Linked DNA regions of Homo sapiens: region 2 is linked to region 1. The links come from fine-mapping of genetic effects on gene expression. A gene starts in region 1. The other region holds a variant in brackets. All regions are shown on one strand. Distances are from middle to middle.

Evidence for each region.
Region 2: its variant is fine-mapped to the expression of TLR2 in cerebellar hemisphere (GTEx, PIP above 0.99).

What each region holds. Positions count from the first base shown.
Region 1 is chr4:153,677,661-153,689,469 of GRCh38, forward strand. It overlaps TLR2 (toll like receptor 2), which reads left to right and starts at 6,620. Exons shown (of 3, transcript NM_001318789.2): 1 at 6,620-6,700; 2 at 10,242-10,387. It also overlaps the pseudogene LOC100419170. RefSeq lists silencers at 6,338-6,517, 6,798-6,887.
Region 2 is chr4:153,704,489-153,716,297 of GRCh38, forward strand. It overlaps TLR2 (toll like receptor 2), which reads left to right. Exons shown (of 3, transcript NM_001318789.2): 3 at 1-1,772. The coding sequence ends at 774. It overlaps RNF175 (ring finger protein 175), which reads right to left. Exons shown (of 9, transcript NM_173662.4): 7 at 11,041-11,174; 8 at 7,987-8,088; 9 at 5,672-6,001. The coding sequence ends at 5,881. Among named protein-coding and RNA genes, the nearest start is that of TLR2, 26 kb to the left of the region's middle. The variant T/C (reference allele first, on the strand shown) is at 5,923.

The DNA of each region.
Region 1 (11,809 bases):
GGCTTCCCAAAGTGTTGGGATTACAGGCGTGAACCAGGCTAAGATATTTTAGTACATTTTTCAAGGTGCTCCAAATAAGTTAGAACTTGATAAAATTCTACCTTCTTTTCATATTCTTCTCTGAAGTGGTCTGAAAGGCCATATAACCCTTATATATATTAAAATGATATCAGTCACTCATGGTTTTGCTTGACTATGTGGGTGAAAATAGTGCACTATATTTCTTCATTCCCATCTTTAAATGAAGTCAGCTCTTGTGTGGTGGAGGCAAGATGTCAGTCAAGACAAGGGGCCTGGTCTAGGCTTCTTTCCCCTGAAGTCTTGTCTCTGCAATGGCCACTTCAGATGTTTATACTCCATTCCTCCAGGTCTAGCCCATATTCTGAAAAGGCAAGGCAATCCACCACTCAACAAGTATTCATTGAGTGCCAGCCATGCTATTGGGGATGAGAATAGTTCAGTGCATAAAAGAAAACAAAATCCCTGCCCCATGGGATTTACATCCAGTCATACTTAGCAGATGTGTGTGAATCTGGAAGCACCTTTTCTATAGCCTGACAGAATTCTTACAACAGGTGAAAACTACTTGCCTTGTCTTCGGGAGCCTTGTGCATTTGGATCTATCCTTTAACAACTAACCTTGTCTATCATCCTCACAGTCTGACTCTTTACTTCTGGGATAGTCCAACAGAGACTTGAGGAAATGTTTCCTTCTCTCTTTTTCCATTTTCCCAAATTTAAATTCATGAAATATATATAAGTTCTCTAAATTAAAAACAACAGGATATTTTACCAACTTTCTGTTCTGAACTAATTTAAAATTTATGTTTCCAATCCCCAGAGATATGAACTAAAAAGCCTGAAATAAATGTAGATCAGTCACTTGAGCTGACATATGAAGCAGTCAACTTTACTCTGAGACGTTTTGTTTGATCTTTCAAGTTTCTAAAAGTATTTGGAAGCGGGAAACACTGTTCTTCATATGAGATAAAAGGAAGAAAAAAGGACCTTATAGTCAGGCTCATTGTGAAAAAACTAATATTAAGATAAGCTGAAGCAATCAAATGAGAGCATTTGCAAATCACTTGTTGGAGGTAAAGCTGGAAGCCTATGTAGTTCAGGAAAATGGAAGATGAGATGGCTGAGATCCCACGAAAAGACCACGTCCAATAGAAACTGTAATAAAACAGAGCTCAGCTACAGGAATTTTCAATGATGACAAAATTTTAAAGACATGCTTCTACTTTTGTATTGACTAAAGATCTTCAGGTTGAAAGTGTCAAGATCTGCTTAATAGCATATCCTCTGTTGCAACATTCAAAATCATCAGGATTCTTAGATCTCAGTGAAAAATTGATGTTTGAAGAATAATTGAAGTATTCAGTCCATAAGGAAGCCTGAAGCTCCCTATACACCTTGAATTTCATGCTAAATAATCTGCAAGTTCTGGAAAATGCTGCTTAACTCTAGAAAAACTGACTAACCTTGATCTTGGTCAGCATATACTTGGTTCTTTACATATCACTTATCAATGGTCAGAAAGGGAAGAATACTTGAACTTATCTAACACAAAAATTCACAATTTAACCAATTGTTTCCCAGACACGAGGCTTACTAGAAGTGAGCCTTGTAAACTTTTATTTAGCTGCAATTTAAATAACTTTACATTTTCAGATATGTGTTGAAGACCCTACCAGATGCTTTCTTCCCCTTTGAGAAGAAGCAGGAAAAGAAAACTTTCTCTAAAGGGCAACTTGACTCTTTTCACACACTGAAGACTTTGGAAGCTGGTGGCAACAACTTCATTTGCTCCTGTGAATTCCTCTCCTTCACTCAGGAGCAGCAAGCACTGGCCAAAGTTCTTATCGGTTGGCCAGCAAACTACCTGTGTGACTCTCCATCCCACGTGTGTGGCCAACAGGTTCAGGACGTCTGCCTTTTGGTGTCGGAGTGCCACAGGGTGGCACTGGTGTCTGGCATGTGCTGTGCCCTGTTCCTGCTGATCCTGCCCATGGGGGTTCTGTGCCACTGTTTCCACAGCCCGTGGTACATGAAAATGATGTGGGCCTGGCTCTAGGCCAAAAGGAAGCACAGGAAAGCTTGCAGCAGGGACATCTGCTATGACGCATTTGTTTCTTATAGTGAGCAGGATGCCTACTGGGTGGAGAACCTTATGGTCCAGGAGCTGGAGAACTTCAATCCCCTCTTCAAGTTGTGTCTTCATAAGTGGGACTTCATTCCTGGCAAGTGGATCATTGACAATATCATTGACTCCATTGAAAAGAGACACAAAACTGTCTTTGTGCTTTCTGAAAACTTTGTGAAGAGTGAGTGGTGCAAGAAGGAACTGGACTTCTCCCATTTCCGTCTTTTTGATGAGAACAGTGATGCTGCCATTCTCATTCTTCTGGAGCCCATTAAGAAGCCATTTGCCTTAGTCAATCTGGGCTGCTATAGCAAAAATGCCAATAGACTGGGTAGTTTATAGATAAGAGAAATTCATTTCTCACAGATCTAGAGGCTGGGAAGTCCAAGATCAAGGTGTTGGCAGATTTGGTATCTGGTGAGGAACTCTTCCAGGCTCAAAGATAGCTGTCTTCTCACTGTGTTCTTGGTGGTGGAAGGGGTGAGGGAACTCTCTGAAGTTTCTTTTGGAAGGGAACTAATCCCATTCATGAAGCTTCTGCCCCCATGACCTAATCACTCATCAAAGGGCCCACCTCCAGTACCTCACATTGGGGGTTAGGATTTCAACAGATGAATTTCAGGAGGACACAGGCCTTCAGTCTATGGCTAGGATCATTCCCCAGCATTTCTGTTAAGCTGCAGAAGATAATTAACACCTAGACCTGCCTGGAGTGGCCACTAATGAAGCTCAGCGGGAAGGGTTTTAGTTAAAGAAAACTCCTAGTTTTTAGTTCGACCATTGTGGAAGACAGTGGTGATTCCTCAAGGATCTAGAACTAGAAATACCATTTGACCCAGCCATCCCATTACTGGGTATATACCCAAAGGATTATAAATCATGCTACTATAAAGACACATGCACACGTATGTTTATTGCGGTACTATTCACAATAACAAAGACTTGGAACCAACCCAAACGTCCATCAATGATAGACTGGATTAAGAAAATGTGGCACATATACACCATGGAATACTATGCAGCCATAAAAAAGGATGAGTTCATGTCCTTTGTAGGGACATGGATGAAGCTGGAAACCATCATTATGAGCAAACTATCACAAGGACAAAAAACCAAACACTGCATGTTCTCACTCATAGGTGGGAATTGAACAATTCCCACCTGGACACAGGGTGGGGAACATCACACACCAGGGCCTAACGTGGGGTGGGGGGCTGGGGGAGGGGTAGCATTAGGAGAAATACCTAATGTGAATGACGAGTTAATGGGTGCAGCACACCAACATGGCACATGTATACATATGTAACTAACCTGCACGTTGTGCACATGTACCCTAGAACTTAAAGTATAATAATAATAAATAAAACATATCAAAAAAAAGAAAAATGAGCTTGGGAGTCATCATGCCTCCTGCTCCCTTCCCCTGCCCCCAGCCCCCAGCCCCACTTCTGGCTGGGACCTTTGAAGAGTGCAGTTCCCTCTTCCCCATAATTCATTCTGTCCATCTACTCATTCCAACACACTTTTTGATCTGATTTCTATGGCTCAGCTCCAAGGTGCTTGCCTCAGTCCCCTGGCCCGCAGGAGCCCACAAAAAAAAAAAAAAAAAAAAACTCCTAGTTTTTAAAAGGGAAATATATACAACATGAAATATTCTGTTTTCAGAACTTGGTTCTATGTTAACTTAGAAGTTTACTACTATTATTTTGCATAGGCAATATTTTTGAAATGTCTTAAAAAATTACGGACATACGGACATCTGTGCAGAGTAAAAAAATTTTGAAGAATGTATGTTCATGTATAAAGATCTGTAAAATAATGCAGGATTTATGGCATATTTTCATTAAGTGGTTTTCGGTGGATGAGTTTCTTATTATTTCATCTGACAATTACAATATACTTTATGTGAAAAAGACATAGACTGTGTGTTTTGTTTTGTTTTTTCGAAACAGAGTCTCACTCTTATCTCCCAGCCTCAACACACTGGACTCAAACGATCCTCCAACCTCAGCCTCCTGAGTAGCTGGGGTTACAGCTACAAACCATCATGCCTGGCTAATTTTTGAATTTTTGTAGAGATGGGGGTCTCCCTGTTTTGCCCAGGCTGGTCTCAAACTCCTGGACTCAAGATCCTCCTGTCTTGGGCTCCCAAAGTGCCGGGATTACAGGTGTGAACCACCACGCTGGCCTTGTGTTTTCGGATAACTTTCAGATAACAGCTTAGGATTTCAGTTAGATGCTCAAAACTATGAATATATACAATGAAAGTTACCCTTTCCCCAAATATTAGTACATTTCATATGCCGTGTTGATTTTCTAACTTTAATCAACATTTTTCTTTTTTTTGGTAGAGAGTTATAGGAGGTCTTATATCTAGATACAGAAGGAGACTTGGAGTCTAACCTGGGATTTGCCACATGTTAACTGTGAGCCATGCGACTCTGGGCAAGTTCCCTAATCACTTTAACCAAAGGAATAGTAATATCAGAATTATTTATTGCATGTGTTATTGTAAGATTCAGATGAAATTCTAGATGTGAAGGTGCTTCAAAAATGTCAAGAACTAGGCCGGGTGCTGTGGCTCACACCTGTAATCCCAGCACTTTGGGAGGCCTAGGCTGGTGGATCACTTGGTGCCAGGAGTTCAAGACCAGCCTGGTCAACATAGCAAAACCCTGTCTCTACCAAAAATACAAAAATTAGCCAGGCGTGGTGGCACGCACCTGTAATCCCACCTACTTGGGAGGCTGAGGCAGAGAATTGCTTGAATCTGGGAGGTGGAGACTGCAGTGAGATGAGATTGCACCACTGCACTCCAGCCTGGGTGACAAAACGAGACTCCATCTCAGAAAAAAAAAAAAAAAAAAAGAAAATGTCAAGAACTGAACAAGTATAAGGACTGTGTCTGAATTGGACGTGCTAATAGCTTTGTGGACAGTGTACAACTACCTTCAATATATGCAGAGGACACTGATTTGTGGCTAAATAAATGATTTCTATCTGACTTTGCCAGACAATTCTAATTGACTTTGGGATTATAGAGCAATAGCATCAAAATCCACCTTAGGCAGTTCAACTAGGGAAGAGAAATAGAGAAAAAACAAGTTTTTAGTTTCAGGAGAAATAATTTGAAGGAAGTTTTCTTTTGTCAGAAATCACAAGGTAGAGAGCTGGAGATTTGGAATTAATAAGAAAGCATTTTCAGCCAGCTGGACAACCTGATGGTCAGGATAAAGAAAAATAGTAAGATAGTGACCTGTATACAAAAACCTCTCAATTTCATATTTAGGTCTATTGATTAAGTTTCCCTGATGTTCCAACCATCAGAGAGGATTAGGGATGTGGAACAGGGTAGGAGAAACAGCCCTGGATTTAAGGTAAAATTCTGGTTTCAAATCTCAGTTCTGTCATATGTTATACAATTCACATGACATTTTCTTGTGTAAGGGAGGAACAAGGATGCTTGCTCTGCTTCATATCTCACTTTGTGAAAATCAAATGTAATTATGAACATAAAAGGTAGATTATTAACATTAAGGCAGTTGAATTTTAAAAGCTTGTTTTCTTCCCTTATACATATTCCTAACCGTGGAGACAGCTAGGTTCTGTGGCAATGAAGAAAATTGATCAATGACTGTTTTTGGTATTACTTTGGGAAGTAGGGATGGAATAGGGGCAAGGGAAGGGCTTAGCTTCAAACTGTAGACAGAAGTGGGAAGCCCAAATCTTTGCATGGTGAGAAGTGGGATGGAATGTAGGTGCTAGAGATGGTGCACCAGTAGGGACTGTCACTGGATTGGGGAAAAAAATCCGGGGCTGTCCTTATCTGCTCCCTTAGGCAAAATCGTTCTGTGTTAGTCTGGAGGGTGAACCTATTTTAATGCAGGAGGGCATAGACTTTTGGGTGGAAGCGGACCCTGGAGATGTACTGGCAGGTGAATAGAGTGTGGAAAAGTGGGGAAAGGAGAAGCACGATTCATGAGCCTGAGTTCGGGCTTCCATGGATGGAAAAGCATCAGGAGTGGAATTTAAAGACGGTGTGTTTCAGGTGATGTGAGGTCCTGGATGCCCGAAGCTTCAAGAAAATACTGGTTGGGCACTTAGCTTTCCCTGTGGTTGCCAATCCCACGCAGGCCGCCTCTAGCGTCTCGATTCGCTTTTCTCTGACCTGGAACCTCCGCCAAGCCCCCAGCTCTCTTCTTCGACCCAGCCTTGCACGGGGCAGCTGTCGGGGCAGGACCCGCCTCTGGCCTGTCGCAGCCTAGCTCACGGTCAAGGGCGGGAGCCTGCTGGGAAGCACGGCCGCGGGGGCTCGCTCGGGGCCACCTGCCTGGAACTCAGCGCGAGGTCCAGAGTTCCCTCCGGCTGCGCAGCGGCGCACGTGCCCCGTGGAAGGGGCGGTTCCCGCACCCCAGAAGGAGGGGGCGCCCGGCCGCGCGGACTTTCCCTTTTGCTTACTTCCTAGTCCCGGGCAGGCCGGCTCGGAGGCAGCGAGAAAGCGCAGCCAGGCGGCTGCTCGGCGTTCTCTCAGGTGACTGCTCGGAGTTCTCCCAGGTACGTCGTGCGCTCCCCACTCGTGTGGTCTCTCTGCACCCCTTCCTGGGGTCGGGTCGGGCAGGGGCGGAGGGGAGCCGCAGCCCGGTCACGGGCTCTGGGGAACCCGGGCTCCCGTTCGGCTGCACCTGGGCCCCTAGCTCCTGTCCGGGCGGGGATAGCGGGAAGCGCACCAGGCCCCCGGGACGCCGGTGCTTCTTTGCACGGCCCAGCGCGGGAATGTGGACACCAGCGAAGCCGGCTCAGGTCGGCCCTCGGGAGAAGCAGGGGCTACACGGAAAGGGAGCCCGAGGGTCCTGCAGAGCCCGAGGTCGGGACCCCGCGCGTGCAGTGCCAATGGGCTGCGGCTGGGCTGAGCGCCCTTCCAACCTTGCAGGCCCCGGGGGGGTTGCCGCGGAGAGCTTCCGCTGGGGCTCCGGGCCTCTGGCCGCCACCTCCCTCGGGAGGCCGAGGGGGGCGGTGGCCCCGGCCCGGCCCTCCCGCTTCCCTCACGGCCTGGCCCTCCCGCTTCCCTGATTCCCGGTAGGGTCGCTCTCCCCGCCTCCTGGCCCCTCTTGGCTCGGATGACAAAGATTGGGTAAAGGCTTTCAACGAGCTAGCGTCTGGCAGGGGGTGTGTCCTCGCTCACTGGTTACTGCTAGGACGGAGCTTGGATTTTGGTCACCGTGGCTCAGAGGTGGGAAAGGTTCCGTGCTCTGGGTCTGTCCAGGACCCTGGCTCCCTAACCCAAGTCTGACCTCTGCTCCCTGGCAGGCTTCGCCCCACCTCTGCGTTCCTTCATTCTTAGGATGTGTGAGTTAGGTCTCTGATTAGAAAACAACTTACAGCGTTTAAGCAAAGTCGAGTCCTTCAAGTAAGAATGCTTTGAAGTGCCCTTTACAACTTCTTCAACTTCTATAAATATGAACTTGTGTTTAGAACTTAAATGCAAGCCAGGAAAGTCTTTTTCCTGTTTGAAAGAGAGAGAAAGAGAGAGAAAGAGGTGATTGGAAGTGGTGGGTGGGGGCGGAGAAAGAGAAGGAGAGTAATCTGGGTGTAGACAACTCAAAGTTTGCTGAGATGACTTTAATCTTTTGACTCTGTTATTAAGATTTTTACCAAAGAGCAACTGTAGCTATGGTGGCCTGACTTGAAGGGACAGACCAAACAAACAACAAAACACAAAACAAAACAAACAAACAACAAAAGCAAGAGCAGAAACTATTGGAAAATGATTTATTCACCAATATTTTAAAGGTTCTTCCTGTTCTAAGCAAGGAACATCTTTAAGTTCTTTATAATGTACCCATTTTACATTTACAAAAACTGCCAGAAGTTGACAGCATGTTTTGGGGGTTTCTAAGCTATCAGTTAATTTTTTGGGGTACAGTTTTATTGATAAACTAACAGAGTAGAAAAAATCTAATGGAATACCCCCAAATTTAAAAGAGGGCAAGAAAAGAGAGACAATAGAACATAAAACAAATGGGACAAGAATAAAGTACATAGTTGTCACAGTCCCTTGGGTGCTGCTGTAACAAAATACCTGAGACTGGGTAATTTACAAAGAACAGAAATTTATCCATTCATGGTTCTGGAGTCTGGGAAGTCCAAGATTGAAGGGCTGCATCTGGTGAGGGTCATCTGGCTACATTATAACATGATGGAAAGCATCACATGGTGAGAGAGAGCAAGAGAGGACAGAACTTACTTTTATAACAAACTCATTCTCACAATAAACTGCTCCCTTGGTGATAACATTAATCCATTTATGAGGGTACAGCCTTCATAACCTAATCACCTCTTAAAAGGTTCCACCTCTCAGCTCGCAGTGAGCCGAGATCATGCCACTGCACTCCAGCCTGGGTGACAGAGCGAGACTCTGTCTCAAAACAAACAAACAAACAAAAATTCCACCTCTCAACACTGTTGCATTGAAGATGAAATTTCCAATACATGAGCTTTGGGGCACACATTCAAACCATAGCAATAGTTCAATTACTTTAAAGCCCAAAATGTCAGTAATTATATTAAATGCAATTTAATACATCAGTAACTAAATGAGATAGACTAAATTTTATGATAATCAGACTAATATTATCAGACTAGACTTCAAAACAACCCAACAATCATATGCTGTTTACAAGAGACACATTTATGGATACTAAAAGGTATAAAGTGAACAGATGCAACCATTTATCAAAAGAAAGCTGTTGTGGCAATATTACTATTAGACAAAATAGAATTAGGAAAAAAATCATAACTGTAGATAAACGTTTCACTAAGTTAAAGGTTTCACTGAGAAGAAATAAAAATTTTGAATTTATAAGTACTTATAACAACATTAAGAAACTAGAAAATAGAAAAAGAATAGAGCCAAATTGACTGAACTAGAAAAATAGAAAATTCATAGAAAAATCCACAATCATAGTGGGAGATTTTATCATACATCTCTCAGTAACTGATAGAAAAACCAGACAAAAATCAATAAGGATAAAGAAAATGCGAACACAATGTAGTTCACATAAGGAACCTATACTACTTCCAACAGCAGCTGAAATCACAGAGCATACTTAAAATCTGACCATATACTGGCTCATAGAGTAAATTGCAATACATTTTAAAGAATTTAAATCATACAGAATATGTCTTCTGACCATAATGCAATTAAAGTAGAAAAGAACAGAAAAACTTATAGAAAATTCTCATATATTTGGAAATTAGTAAATTTCTAAATAACCCATGGGTCAAAAAATAATCAGAATGAAAATCAGAAAATATTTTTAATGACTTATGAAAAAAATTACATATAAAAACTTGTCAGATGCACCTAAACTGTTGCTTAAAGGAAACTTACAACCTTAAGTGCATATATTAGAAATGAAGAGTGACGAAAAATGAATGAGCAAGCAAATACCTTAAAAACTGGAAAAGGAATAGTAAAATAAATCCAGAGAAATCAGAACAGGGGAAATAATAATATAAGAATAGAAATTAATGTGCTAGAAAATAGGGGATCTATCAAGTCAGAAGTTGATTTTTTGAAAATGCTAATAAAAATGATGAACCTCTGGCAAGACAATAAAAGCTGGTACAAATAACTCATCTAAGGAATAAAATTGAGGACCTCTCTTTTGTTAAATGACATAAGCAGGAGGCCATTATCCTGAGACTGTCTCTACACTTTGAGTTCTTACATAATAAACTGCAACCTAATTTAGTATACTACATAAACAAACTGAAACCTAACTTAGGAGCTTTTTTTTTGTAATTAATAGCTAAATTTCCACCAAATCATAAATAGCCAAGCTTTAGCCAATCACAGGCAGCCAACTGATCAGACTATGCCCAAACAAGGTAAATGCCTATTACACCATACCCAAATAAGGCAGACTCCTAGCTGAAGCCAATCAGGTGATTACTATGCTCTTGTGTTTGGCCTATAAAAGCTCACTGCTCACACTGTTGGATGCTCTCTGAAACTTTTGTGAATCTGAGTGCTGCCTGATTCATGAATCATTCTTTGCTAAAATAAACTCTGTCAAATTTAATTTGTCTGAAGTTTCTCTTTTAACAGTGTTTGGTGTTGCAAGCAGGATCCAAAGGAGACCTATAGTGACTCCCAGGAGCTCTTAGTGACCAAGTGAAGGTACCTGTGGGGCTCATTGTGCCCATTGCTCTTTCACTGCTTTCAACTGGTAGTTGTGGGTAAGTTCCTGCTCAGACTTGAGCACTATACATTTGCATTTTCAGCTCTCTGACTTTATTTGAGCAATTCTTTGATGGATTGGCTCCAGAATTGGATTGGATTCAGTGAAGAAACTGAAACTGGACTGGTGCTCTAGGAGGCCTCAAGTAGATAAGGTTACTAGAAGACAGGGAATCCTGGGCTTATCTGGATTTAAGGAGTCTACAACTCCATCTGCAACTCCAGCCGATTTCATTTATAAGAATTATGGACCAAGAACCTGTGCTTTTCTAGAGAAATGTGTGAGCCTTACTAAAGGTAACTTAGAATTACAATGGACTGCTGAGACCAGCTCGGTCGTGGAGACCCTAACCCAGCAGCGCTAGAGGAATCAAAGACACACACACAGAAATGTAGAGTGTGGAGTGGGAAATCAGGGGACTCACAGCCTTCAGAGCTGAGAGCCCCTAACAGAGATTTACCCACATATTTACTGACAGCAAGCCAGTGATAAGCATTATCGCTATAGATTATAGATTAACTAAAAGTATTCCTTACAGGAAACAAAGGGATGGGCCGAAACAAAGGGATAGGCTCTGGCTAGATGTCTGCAGCAGGAACACGTCCTTAAGGCACAGATTGCTCATGCTATTGTTGTGGCTTAGGAACACGTTAAGCGGTTTTCTGCCCTGGGTGGGCCAGGTGTTCCTTGCCCTCATTCCAGTAAACCCACAACCTTCAGCGTGGGCGTCATGGCTGTCACAAACATGTCACAGTGCTGCAGAGATTTTGTTTATGGCCAAATCTGGGGCTAGTTTATGGCCAGGTTTGGGAGCCTGTTCCCACATGTCCCCCTTTTTTGTTTTGCAAAGCAATAAAAGCAAAGGCAGCTTTGTCACAGTGAGCTACTTCTTGCAGGAGTCGGGATTCGCATATGCATACTATACAAAGACAAACAACACAGATTAAAAGCACAACCATCATTGAAATCACAGAGCTTCCAAGTGTCTTTATCTATTTTAATGGGTTAATCACTGCTAATCTGTCTGCAGCTCCTTCAAGCACTCCAGTTCCTGGCATTAAGGTCTGGTGTGCCTGGAATGCTTTAAATATTTGTTCTTTTAATATTGCAATATGGAAAGACAAGTTTGTAGAGTGTCTTCTAGGTGCTTTTTTATTCTTTCCTGAATTTGGTCTTATTTAAGAGCCATTAATAGTTTCCACAAATCCTTATGTTTAGCTCCTACAGCGGGCCATATCATTTGAGGGTGAGGTGCCACTATACCATCATGTTTCCAGATAATAGGAACTCTTGCCATATTTCTTGCTATTTCTACCATCTGACCATTTTGTTTAGACCAGCTAAACATAGTGTGGCCATGGCACGCAGACTGAGAGGTGCAATTTAAGCTAAACATCCCCTTAGGGGACCAATCAATAAT
Region 2 (11,809 bases), 27 kb after region 1:
TTGGAAGCTGGTGGCAATAACTTCATTTGCTCCTGTGAATTCCTCTCCTTCACTCAGGAGCAGCAAGCACTGGCCAAAGTCTTGATTGATTGGCCAGCAAATTACCTGTGTGACTCTCCATCCCATGTGCGTGGCCAGCAGGTTCAGGATGTCCGCCTCTCGGTGTCGGAATGTCACAGGACAGCACTGGTGTCTGGCATGTGCTGTGCTCTGTTCCTGCTGATCCTGCTCACGGGGGTCCTGTGCCACCGTTTCCATGGCCTGTGGTATATGAAAATGATGTGGGCCTGGCTCCAGGCCAAAAGGAAGCCCAGGAAAGCTCCCAGCAGGAACATCTGCTATGATGCATTTGTTTCTTACAGTGAGCGGGATGCCTACTGGGTGGAGAACCTTATGGTCCAGGAGCTGGAGAACTTCAATCCCCCCTTCAAGTTGTGTCTTCATAAGCGGGACTTCATTCCTGGCAAGTGGATCATTGACAATATCATTGACTCCATTGAAAAGAGCCACAAAACTGTCTTTGTGCTTTCTGAAAACTTTGTGAAGAGTGAGTGGTGCAAGTATGAACTGGACTTCTCCCATTTCCGTCTTTTTGATGAGAACAATGATGCTGCCATTCTCATTCTTCTGGAGCCCATTGAGAAAAAAGCCATTCCCCAGCGCTTCTGCAAGCTGCGGAAGATAATGAACACCAAGACCTACCTGGAGTGGCCCATGGACGAGGCTCAGCGGGAAGGATTTTGGGTAAATCTGAGAGCTGCGATAAAGTCCTAGGTTCCCATATTTAAGACCAGTCTTTGTCTAGTTGGGATCTTTATGTCACTAGTTATAGTTAAGTTCATTCAGACATAATTATATAAAAACTACGTGGATGTACCGTCATTTGAGGACTTGCTTACTAAAACTACAAAACTTCAAATTTTGTCTGGGGTGCTGTTTTATAAACATATGCCAGATTTAAAAATTGGTTTTTGGTTTTTCTTTTTTCTATGAGATAACCATGATCATAAGTCTATTACTGATATCTGAATATAGTCCCTTGGTATCCAAGGGAATTGGTTGCAGGATCCTCGTGGATATCAAAATTCATAGATGATCAAGTCCCTTATAAGAGTGGCATAGTATTTGCATATAACCTGTGTACATTCTCCTGTATACTTTAAATCATCTCTAGATTACTTATGATACCCAATACAATGTAAATACTATGTAAATAGTTGTACTGTCTTTTTATTTATATTATTATTGTTATTTTTTATTTTCAAAATTTTTAAAACATACTTTTGATCCACAGTTGGTTGACTTCATGGATGCAGAACCCATGGATATAGAGGGCCAACTGTAATCTGTAGCAACTGGCTTAGTTCATTAGGAAACAGCACAAATGAACTTAAGATTCTCAATGACTGTGTCATTCTTTCTTCCTGCTAAGAGACTCCTCTGTGGCCACAAAAGGCATTCTCTGTCCTACCTAGCTGTCACTTCTCTGTGCAGCTGATCTCAAGAGCAACAAGGCAAAGTATTTGGGGCACTCCCCAAAACTTGTTGCTATTCCTAGAAAAAAGTGCTGTGTATTTCCTATTAAACTTTACAGGATGAGAAATACTAGAGGGTGTATTTTCATGTGATCTGGATCTGTCTTTCTGGCTATTAGATAGGTTTCTCCAGCCATAGTTACTTGAGAGAGTGAGTACACAGTGCAAGGTACAGTAAATTATGTATTTCTGTAATTTAACAAAATAAATACTCAGTTTAGGAGAATTTGAAAGACACTTCCCACATCCGGACTCTGGTCTTCCTCAGCCTCTAACTACCTTTTGAGTTCTAGTTATTGTCCAATCACTCTGACTCTCAGTTCCTGTTTTTTAGCCTATATCTCCTGCATCTTGTTGCTTTTTCCTTCTTCGAAAAGTCTTGTTTTTAATTCTAAAAAAGCCTGCCCTTTTTCCCCTTCTGAATATTTTAAAAAGTACATGTGAGCTAAATAGATTTTTAAGCAAATATATACCTAGAGTTTCCTCATAATGACTCAAAAATAGTTTGATACACAGTAATTTAAAGGTAGATACTACTACCATATGTTAATTTTGCAATCTAGGTATAATAATACCACACATTAAATTTTGATGCAACTTTCTTTGGTAAGCACTATTTGCTGATTCTATGTAACTTTCTTAAGCTGGGAACCATGTGAAAGGAAGTGAGCCTTTGACCCCTGCTCAATTCTCAACCAGAACTGGGTGTATGTGGTTAATTGGGCACTAGAGTCAGAAAGACCTGGGTTAGTAGATGTGTAATCTTTGGCAAGTCAGTTGACATGACCCAAAAAGTTTTTCTGTCTTTAAAATAGGGATGATGATCTCTATATCCTAAGATACTGAGAGTATGAAATGTAGGAATGTAAGTAAACCATGAGCCTAAGCTCCTTGATTCCCATTTTCTCTGGAGGGGTGTTGAGGGCAAGAGTACCACGCCTAAGAGAATGGGCACTATGGGTTCGTGTGTGGGGTGAGGGTGATGTCTGTAGTAGATGTTAGCTATTATTATTATTTTCCAAGAAGATATTTCATTCCCTTATATATTATGGCTTGTAAGTGGATATTTTTCTGTTATGGATACTAGCAGGGATATAAGGGATCCTGCTGTTTGCAGAAAAATACCACAAAGAAATATATGCTCATTAACTGCAGAACAAGCTTGTCCTTGGGGAACTCGCATAGGGCTGCTGCTGTTTCACACGACCTCCCAGAAGAGTGTTATGGAGGAAACGGTAGCCAGCCTTAAAAAAAATCAGGCTTGGTGTAATCCCAGCACTTTGGGAGGCTAAGGCAGGAGGATTGCTTGAGTCCAGGAGTTGGAGACCAGCCTGGGAAACATGGCAAAACCCTGTCTCTACCAAAAAATACAAAATATTAGCAGGGCATGGTGGCATGTGCCTCTGGTCCTAGCTACTCGGGATGCTGAGGTGGGAGGATCACCTGAGCCCGGGAGGTCCAGGCTGCAGTGAGCTGTGATTGCACCACTGCACTCCAGCCTGGGTGACAGAGGAAGACACTGTCTCAAAAAAACAAAATGAAACAAAACAAACGAAAAACAAGTTTAGAGGAAGGAAACTTGAGATTCCACAGACACCAAATACAGTAATGGACTTTCTGCTTTACTTCTCTGTTTCCATGTTAATTATGAGAACAAGGTAGATTTAACATTGACTCGATCTATGTTTAATTTCAAGAACTTAAAATAGCAACTGAAATAGCTTCATAGATAATTGATAGATTTAAAATAATATTTAAAAAATAATCTTTAGGACGGACGTGGTGGCTTATGCCTGTAATCCCAGCACTTTGGGAGGCTGAGGTGGGAGGATCACCTGAGGTGTTGTGGTGCCTATTCACATTAAAGGTGGATCTTCCTTTCCTAGTCCACTGACTCAAATGTTAATCTCCTCTGGCAACACCCTCACATACACACCAGAAACTATACTTTACCAGCTATCCAGGCATCTTTCAATCCAATCAAGTTGACACCTAGTATTAGCCATAATACTCTCCAATCTTTTTTCAGTGTACATATACACACTACTTTACAAAATTGGGATTAGATTGTAAATACTTAAATTTTATAAAGAAAATGGCATCTTCATTTTTTTCTGAGGCTGTTTAGTGATTATCTGACATTCCTGAACTCTGAGGGTCATTGTGAATCCCATTCAGATAAATACTGGCTTATTTGCCGAGAGTTCTAAATGGTTCTGAAAGCTGCCATTGTGGCTATACATAAAAGATAAGTGGGAACTAAATTAGAGATCAGTTTAAGGGTTCTTTTTTTTGTTTAACAGGAGAAAAACTAATTTTTTGTTAGTGCTTTATCCAAATGTGAAGTCTTTTATTTGTCAATAGACTATAAGCTCAAGAATCTTGTTTTATCTCCCTACCCCTTGAACATGCCTACTATATAGTAAGTATTGAATTATTGGGATGTTTTCAGAGTAGAGAAATAAGCAATTAAAAATTCTATAATCTGGATGCTGAATCAATCATAATGAGAGAGGAGAAAATGAAAAATCAGTTCGGTAGACAGCTAAGGCTAGTCTTCAGAGAAGCAGTCTGCCTGGAAAATCACAGCTACAGGCAAAAATAGAGCAGCCTGGGGAAAACTCAGACTGTACCTGCACAGATAAGCAGGCAAGGTCCAGCACAGAAGCCTTTTGTTCTTTGTGTGATTAGCAGGCTCCCAGGAAAATGTTTTCTCCCCTTTTCAGATATGAACACGGGGGGATCCATGGGAGATTGCACTGGAAACAGAGGGGGTTTACCTAAAAGAAACCCACAATTACTCAAACAAGAAAAAACTATGCTTTGTGCTTACCTAGAGACATCTCACAGCTGTATAGGTAGGTGGAGTTGTGCAGACAGGTTTTCAAATAAGAGAAGTTACTCAAACAGCTACAGAGATGAGAGGAGTTTCTTATAAAAGCTTTTGCATTCAGCTGTAAAATGGCACCCCACTTGGGCTCTCCTCTCCACTGTGGAGAGCTTTCTTCTTTCACTTACTAAACTTTTGCTCCAACCTCACCCTTTGCATTCATGCTCCTTAATTTTCTCAGTCATGACACAATAAGTTCAAATAACACCTTAGACAATGAGACAATGGACCCTGACCTATTTCAATAATACTGAAGCATTGGGCAGTTTGAAAGAGGAAAGTTCTCAACAGTAAGAAATTGTAGTGTGAGTTATCTTAATGATGGACCTTTGAATAGCATTAAGTATAGTGCCAATATCTGAACAAGGAAAATAATCATTGTATTTCCTTTCTACTTCATACAATTGTAATGGCTTCAAGTATTGCAGAGTAGATGTCTGGTGTTAAATGTATACAGTGTTGACTATTTTAAAAATGACCAGTAATTCAAAACAAATTAATTTTGAGAGTCCAACATATCATTCATGGGTTAATTCTTTCTGACTGGTCTTCTCTATTCAGTTAATTTTGTTCCCTTCTGCCAGATTAATTTACTCTTTCAGCAAATATTTTTTGAGTGCCTCTTATGTGCTAGGCAGTGCTCAAAGTGCAGGGGATATGGTAGGGAACAAAACATAAAATTCCTTGTCTTCATGGAGGAGAAGACAATAAATTTATGATAGGATTTCGGGTATTGAGAAGTACTATGAAGAAAATAAAAGCAGAGTGCCACAATGGAATGACTGTGCACGTGTATGTGTGCACGCGCACGCAGAGTGGAACAAAAGAAAAGTGATTCTTCTTGCTTTAGTACAGCTGTTGCATGGGTTTGAGCACTTTTGGCAGCTCCAGGAAACCCAAAGTACCTGTGGCCCATTGAGAAGGTGTGGCACCTGCTGCCAGAGGCTTTGGGAGTAACCCACTTTCTACAGAAGAGCTCTGTGGTGCAGAAGCTGCCACATGGTAACAAGCACATGGAGCAGAAGACAAGCACAATGTCCTTGACCATAGATTACTTAACGACTCCACCTACTTTAAAGATGTTGAACTGATGAGAAAGTATTAGCTATGGCTAAATGTTGTGTGTGAGAAGTACTTTGCAAACCTCTGAAACACTTTACAGATATTGTTATCAGTCAAACTGGAAGTAGAATGTCCACAGTGCAGTGTAACAAATGTGACATGTGCATGAGTTAAGAAACAGCTGTAATGGGAAAGATGAAAAAACATGCTTTATTTGTTTATTCCATTGTTCAGCTTCTCTTTAAATTCTTTCCACATGGACAAATTGCTTGACAACAAAGTTTACTTAGTTTTCTAAACACTTGGGATCATCTCTAAAATTAAAAAAATTAATATTAAATGTTGGACCAAGGATTTCAACCATGCAGTATGTTGCTTCTGGGGTCTGCTGTCCTATTCCAGCCCTAGTGAATAGATAATGCCTTGAACTATTCC[T/C]ATCACCACAGGTTGCCAGGCCACCAAATAACGAAGCCAATCCAGGATTTGTCCATACAGAAAATGTGTGCGCTCCCAGCTAAATCTCAGTTAAGGAGGTTGTTCTATATACAGCCAAGTAGCAGAAATATTCATAAATGTCATTTGCAAATATAATAAACAATGTAATGAATGGGTATTTCCTTTCTTGTTAATTCTATGTGCTCAATTAAAAGCCCCTTATGTGAGTTTTATAGCATTATGGTTGTCATTGTTACTTACACCACACCCAATTCCTGAAAATAAATTGAAGTTCTTTACAATAAAATCCCAAACTAGAAAACAAGAATCAAAGGCAAGGGTATATGCTAAAAGAAGGAAGAAGAGGGGAATGACTATATTGGAAAACCAAGGATAGTGGAAACTGCTCTAAATGAGCAAAAACAGCTCTGGGCTTTCCTGTAGTCATACATTAGAATGAACCCATTGTATATTACAAAGAATAACACTGGTTCATCAGATAAGAGAGACCTTTTTCTGCTGTCTTTGATAAACTGTGCTAGGGAGCTTAATGAATGCATAGTGTCTCCGACAACAATTTTACAAACAAAATGACAGCTTTTTCACATGTAGTTTTTTCTTATATTGAGTCTCAATAAAAGAGTAGTATATGTTTTATTCAACAGTTTATTTTCTCAAGACTACATAAAGAAATGAATGACCCTTTGTTAAAGTATCACTTGAGGTGACATTTATGATCATATTATCACCAATTTTATAACAAAGATTTATGCATTGAGGTTTTATAGGTTAATAACCAAAAACTGTTCTGGACTTGGTATCCTCATTTTAGAAGAGGAATTCCAGGACAGTGGATGAACAGGAAGGTGGAAGGATCATCACACACTTTTAGCCTTGAGTTGGGCTTGAGTGGCACTGACTCACCGAGAAAGGCCAGGTCTGTGGATGGAGTGGGCACTGCAGAGGGTGGTCTCTTGCAATGGTATGGGCCTTGAGACCCAAAGATCCACTGATGTTGCCTCCTTCTCTGATGCCCTCCTTGAATCCCTCCCTGATCTGCAGTGCCCAGAGATGAGGGCATTGCTGCCAGTAGCCATTGTTAAACCATACGTATAGGGTTGGTGAGGAACAGGGGAGCAGGAAGCAAGGAAGGTGATTCCTTTAGCATTGTAAAATTTAGCTATTACTTAGAAAGTACAGAAAGGCTGTCTCTTAGAGAAGAGATGGTACTTGGCAGGTTGATGCCAACCTTTCAGGACTCTTCTGCTTAAGGGAGGATATGTTTTAATTCCATTCCCACCCTGCTTCCTGAATGAGATATACTATGGTCTTGAGATAGTGAGGTTGAAGACAAAGTCTTTCTAGTTAGCTCCTGATGGGGGCCATTACCTTCCTGCGACCTTAATGTGACTTGAATTTATTCTGTTGCACACCTCTGATGTCTATACAAATCTCAGTGGCTGCCAGAAGCTGATCAACTCTGTAAATCTTTATTTATTTTCAATATTGTTATCACTAGTGTTTGGCCTAAGAAGAGATGATGCATGGCATGGAATTTAAAAAGCCAAAATCCAGACGGGGAAATACCTACTCATTTCTGGGAATAATAAAATTTGGTACACCCTAACATATTTTAAAAATAGTTTTCTGTACTCTAGTTCACATTTCGGCTTTTAAAATTTCAATTCCAATTTTTCTATTTATGCACCTATCTACCCACCCATCCAGTTCACTCATTTATTCATCCATCCATCCATCCTGAATATTCTTCCATATATTTTACCTATTTTTTGCAGTGTCTCATCACATTTCCACTACAGCCCTTAATGTGGAAAATATAGAACATAAAGAGTGGAATGTTTTCTGGCATTTAACTTTCTAACCAGAATAGTAATATAGGCACAGAGGAGAAAAGAGACCATAAGTCATTTTGAAATAGGTGGTTAGGGAAAACAAAAAATTTTCTGCTGGAACTATACAAAAACACTGAAACTTTTCATTGAAGAATATATCCCCAGAAACATTCAAGATAATCTCTTATAACCTTTTTGTTTTAAAGGATATGGATTACTGATCATCCTCTTCAAATCAACTTTCTCTTTGCAGTAAGGGCAAGTCTGCTTTTTCCCAACGATACACCAACCTCGGATGCAGAATTCATGAAAGCTGAAGCATCTTGTTAGGGAGGCTTCTAGATATGAAAAGGCAATGTCTGGTTCATGATGGCATGGAATGGTCCCATCTTCAGGGTCTAGTGGTGGAGTCATGACTTGATGAGGCACATCGCTTTTTTCGGGAGGTTCTGTAAGGGACCTGACAATGACAGTGAGCCTGGAGTCACAGCTGCCTTCGCTTTATGACCCTGAGGAATTTACTTAGCTTCTTGGCCTTCTTGCCTCACTTGATTCTGGTAAGAATTAGATTAGATAAAGAATATGAGTCCTTTTTTTTTTTTTTCCTTTACAGTGATGTCTTCCATAAGTGTATTGTTATATTTCCCCACCTTGTTATTGTGCGTTTCTCAGGCATTTACCGTAGCATTTCTCTGTTCTACTTTTTGTGCATTATTCTTTAGCTTCATGTAATCAGACTTGTCTTAGGCACTTAGACAAGTTAAAATTATTTGTGGTCATAAAGTTACAAATATTTCCATTAACTTCATAATTTTTTTTCTTGACTTTTAAAAGTACTGATAAGGAGCCAATTATTTTTAATAGAATATATACCTACTAAACTTAACTTCTCAAACTCTAGGCATTTACAGATCCATTTGTATACGTCTCCTGGTCCAGAAAGTCTGACCCTTTGTCCCCAAACTTGAGTGAACCCTATGTGTTCTCACAGCACCAGGGACTTACTCTAGTGTAGCAGGACTTTTGGTACTTACATGTTTCTCCTAGACCATGTGTTACCTGTAGGACTATGTCTCATTCATTTCAGTGTCCTCAGCACCTTAAGCCATGCCTAAGAAATATTTATTGAATGAACATTTGAATGACTCTTTCAAAACTGATTATTTTTGGGAATATATATTTCCATGTTCCCTGATACTATGGATTTGGGCAAAATGAACTATAATGAAATCCATCCTACTGATTTGTTTATTTCTACAATCGCTGCTCCCAATGTGACTTTCTGGGCCAAGATCACATGATCTTCTGACTGGCCTGCTACACACCCAGGTGAACAGCAACGATGTAGAAGTTCCCTCCCTAACAAATGGAGGAGCTTGGAGGTGTAGCAAGTCAAGGCCATGTATATAACTCCTCAGTATTAAATTTCAATGTAACCAGGAGTTTCCATTATTTTATGTTCTTGGAATTGGGGTCATTTTTGCAATATGCTTTAAAATAAAGTGGTGTATTATAACGAAGATTTTGAACCAAAACTCAAACAGCCTTTCATTCAAAAGGGCTGGAATACAGCCCCATCTTCTACAGAGGTATAGAATTCAGGGGCCATTGAGTCAGCACAGAAATGTCCACATTCTCTCTAATGTTCTTTTTCATTTTCAAAATCTCAATGCTGAAAAACTTGCACACTGGCAGAACTTCTGCAGAGCAAGACTCAGATAACCCATCCTTGTTAATATGACTCATATTTGCCCATTTCTCACTAATATGACTCATGCTAAAATGGGCCATTAATAATACTCCCTGAAAAGCAAATTTAAAGGTGACTACATTTTAGATTATATATGCACACATGTACAACAATCCCTAAGGGCTTTTAAAGGTGGAGAGAGAAAACATTTCCATTTGCAAATGGCAGAAGGGGCTCTGTTCCAACATTTGAAAAATAAATCATATTTAAAACTAGGGCCAGACTTGGAAAATTGCTACAAAGAATGAGTTTTTTGGGAAAGGTATCACACTGAAAAAACCACTACAGAAATCCATATGGGGTATCTTTGTGTTTCTTCCCTTAAGATTTTAAGGCTTATGTATTGGAGTAAAGGCTCCTATTACTTTTGAGATGCATTTGGTCCTGGTTTTACTTTCAGGATTGAATAAGTGGAAACTGTCCAGATTAAACAGAATTGAATCATAGGTACTGGACACCGAGGTATGACTGACTAAATTAAGTGGGCTTTAGGCAAAAGACAGATGGTTTAACCATCTCATAATGCCAGAGCTTTGAACTAACTGGGTACATAGCGATGACATTATTAAATTGATACTGTACTATAAAATAAAGATAAATGATACCCTTTTTTGTATTTAGGAAGAATTAAAATACTGATGATTGGCCAACCTAAGCCTAACTTTGGTATCCATAGCAAAAGTAGTGTCCATACATGTTCAGGCAACACAGGTTGATTTGTTCAGGGGTCTCGATGCCAGCATTTTTCAGCACATTGAGGCTTTCCTTAATGGTTACTGGAGTTCACATAGAATGCTGGTTTCCAGGCTCAGGCTGTCTGGTACCTATCATATGAAGATCCCTCAGCCAATGGATAGCTATTTGGGATAGAACCCATTGGTGGAGGAGCCCATGGTCCAAGAACAAATGTCCAAATTTTGGTCCCTGCTTTTGTAATCCAAGGTGTCTTGCTGCCTGTGGCTGTATCTTCTTCTAAAGACTGAAGCTGAGAAGAAGGCTTGGTTTCCTCCCTTGGCTGCCCCCAAGACTACTGTTGCCACAGGTAGGTTCCTAGGATTATTTCTAGGCAAAGCACTCTTTGTATTTCTTGATCTGCTAAGATTCAGACCTTGGGCTCCACTTGGATAGTCTTAAGTTCCCCCCTGCACCTGATACTTCACTCTTTTTCTCACCTCCAAACCCCTTCTTTCCCTGATCTTTGTTGGCTATCTGCTCACTTATGACTTCAACCAATTTCCCCTGCCAGCACCCTGCTCAGATACTGCCTTCCTGTCTATGTGGCATTAACAGTCCTCTTTAGAAAGGAAATTACTGGAGGAGGAGGTTCACCTTAATTAGCAGTTCATTATTCAGCAGGGACAAACAGGAAGACTCGACTGGGCTGGAGGATAAAGGACTGGGGTTTGGGCATGGAAGGTAAGCAAGATGGAGGAGATGGGGACAGGAGGAGGAGGAGGAGAAGGAGGAAAGAAGGAGGCTTGATGAAGCCCAAACAATTTCCTTTGAAAAGGATACACATGATTACAGGAAAGCTGGTAGGTGTTTTCAATGAGCCCTTCTTCATCAAGCTCCACAATGATCTTCTGCCCACAGACTGCACAGATATTGTCCGATAAGCTCCTTGTAGGCAACCGGCTGACACTGTAGAACTATCAGAGGAAATGGACAGAGCACAGTCAGAAAGGAGAGCACATGCCACTCTCTGAATGCAGGAAGCCACTGCCAGGCACTGGGACAGGCAGCCCTTGGCACATAGAATCTCCACTGCGGCCGGGCATGGTGGCTCATGCCTGTAATCCCAGCACTTTGGGAGGCTGAGGCAGGTGGATCACAAGGTCAGGAGTTCGAGACCAGCGTGGCCAACGGGGTGAAACCCTGTCTCTACTAAAAATACAAAAAAATTAGCCAGGTGCGGTGGTGGGTGCCTGTAATCCCAGCTACTCGGGAGGCTGAGGCAGGAGAATCGGTTGAACCCGGGAGGTGGAGGTTGCAGTGAGCTGAGATTGCGCCACTGCACTCTAGCCTGGGTGACAGAGCAAGACTCTGTCTCAAAAAAAAAAAAAAAAAAAAAAAGAATCTCCACTGCTTCTAAGATAGTTTAGAATGTGAGACACCGTTTCCTGTAAGAAGAATGCTACAGAGGGGTTAAGGTTTCCAGGCAAAAACTCATTGAATTCCAAAGGGACCCAAAGCACATTGCCAATTATAACTTCTCATCTAACCTCCACATTGAGGAATCCTTTCACAGGAATCGTTTTTATCCAGGGCTGGAGTTAAGAGGAAG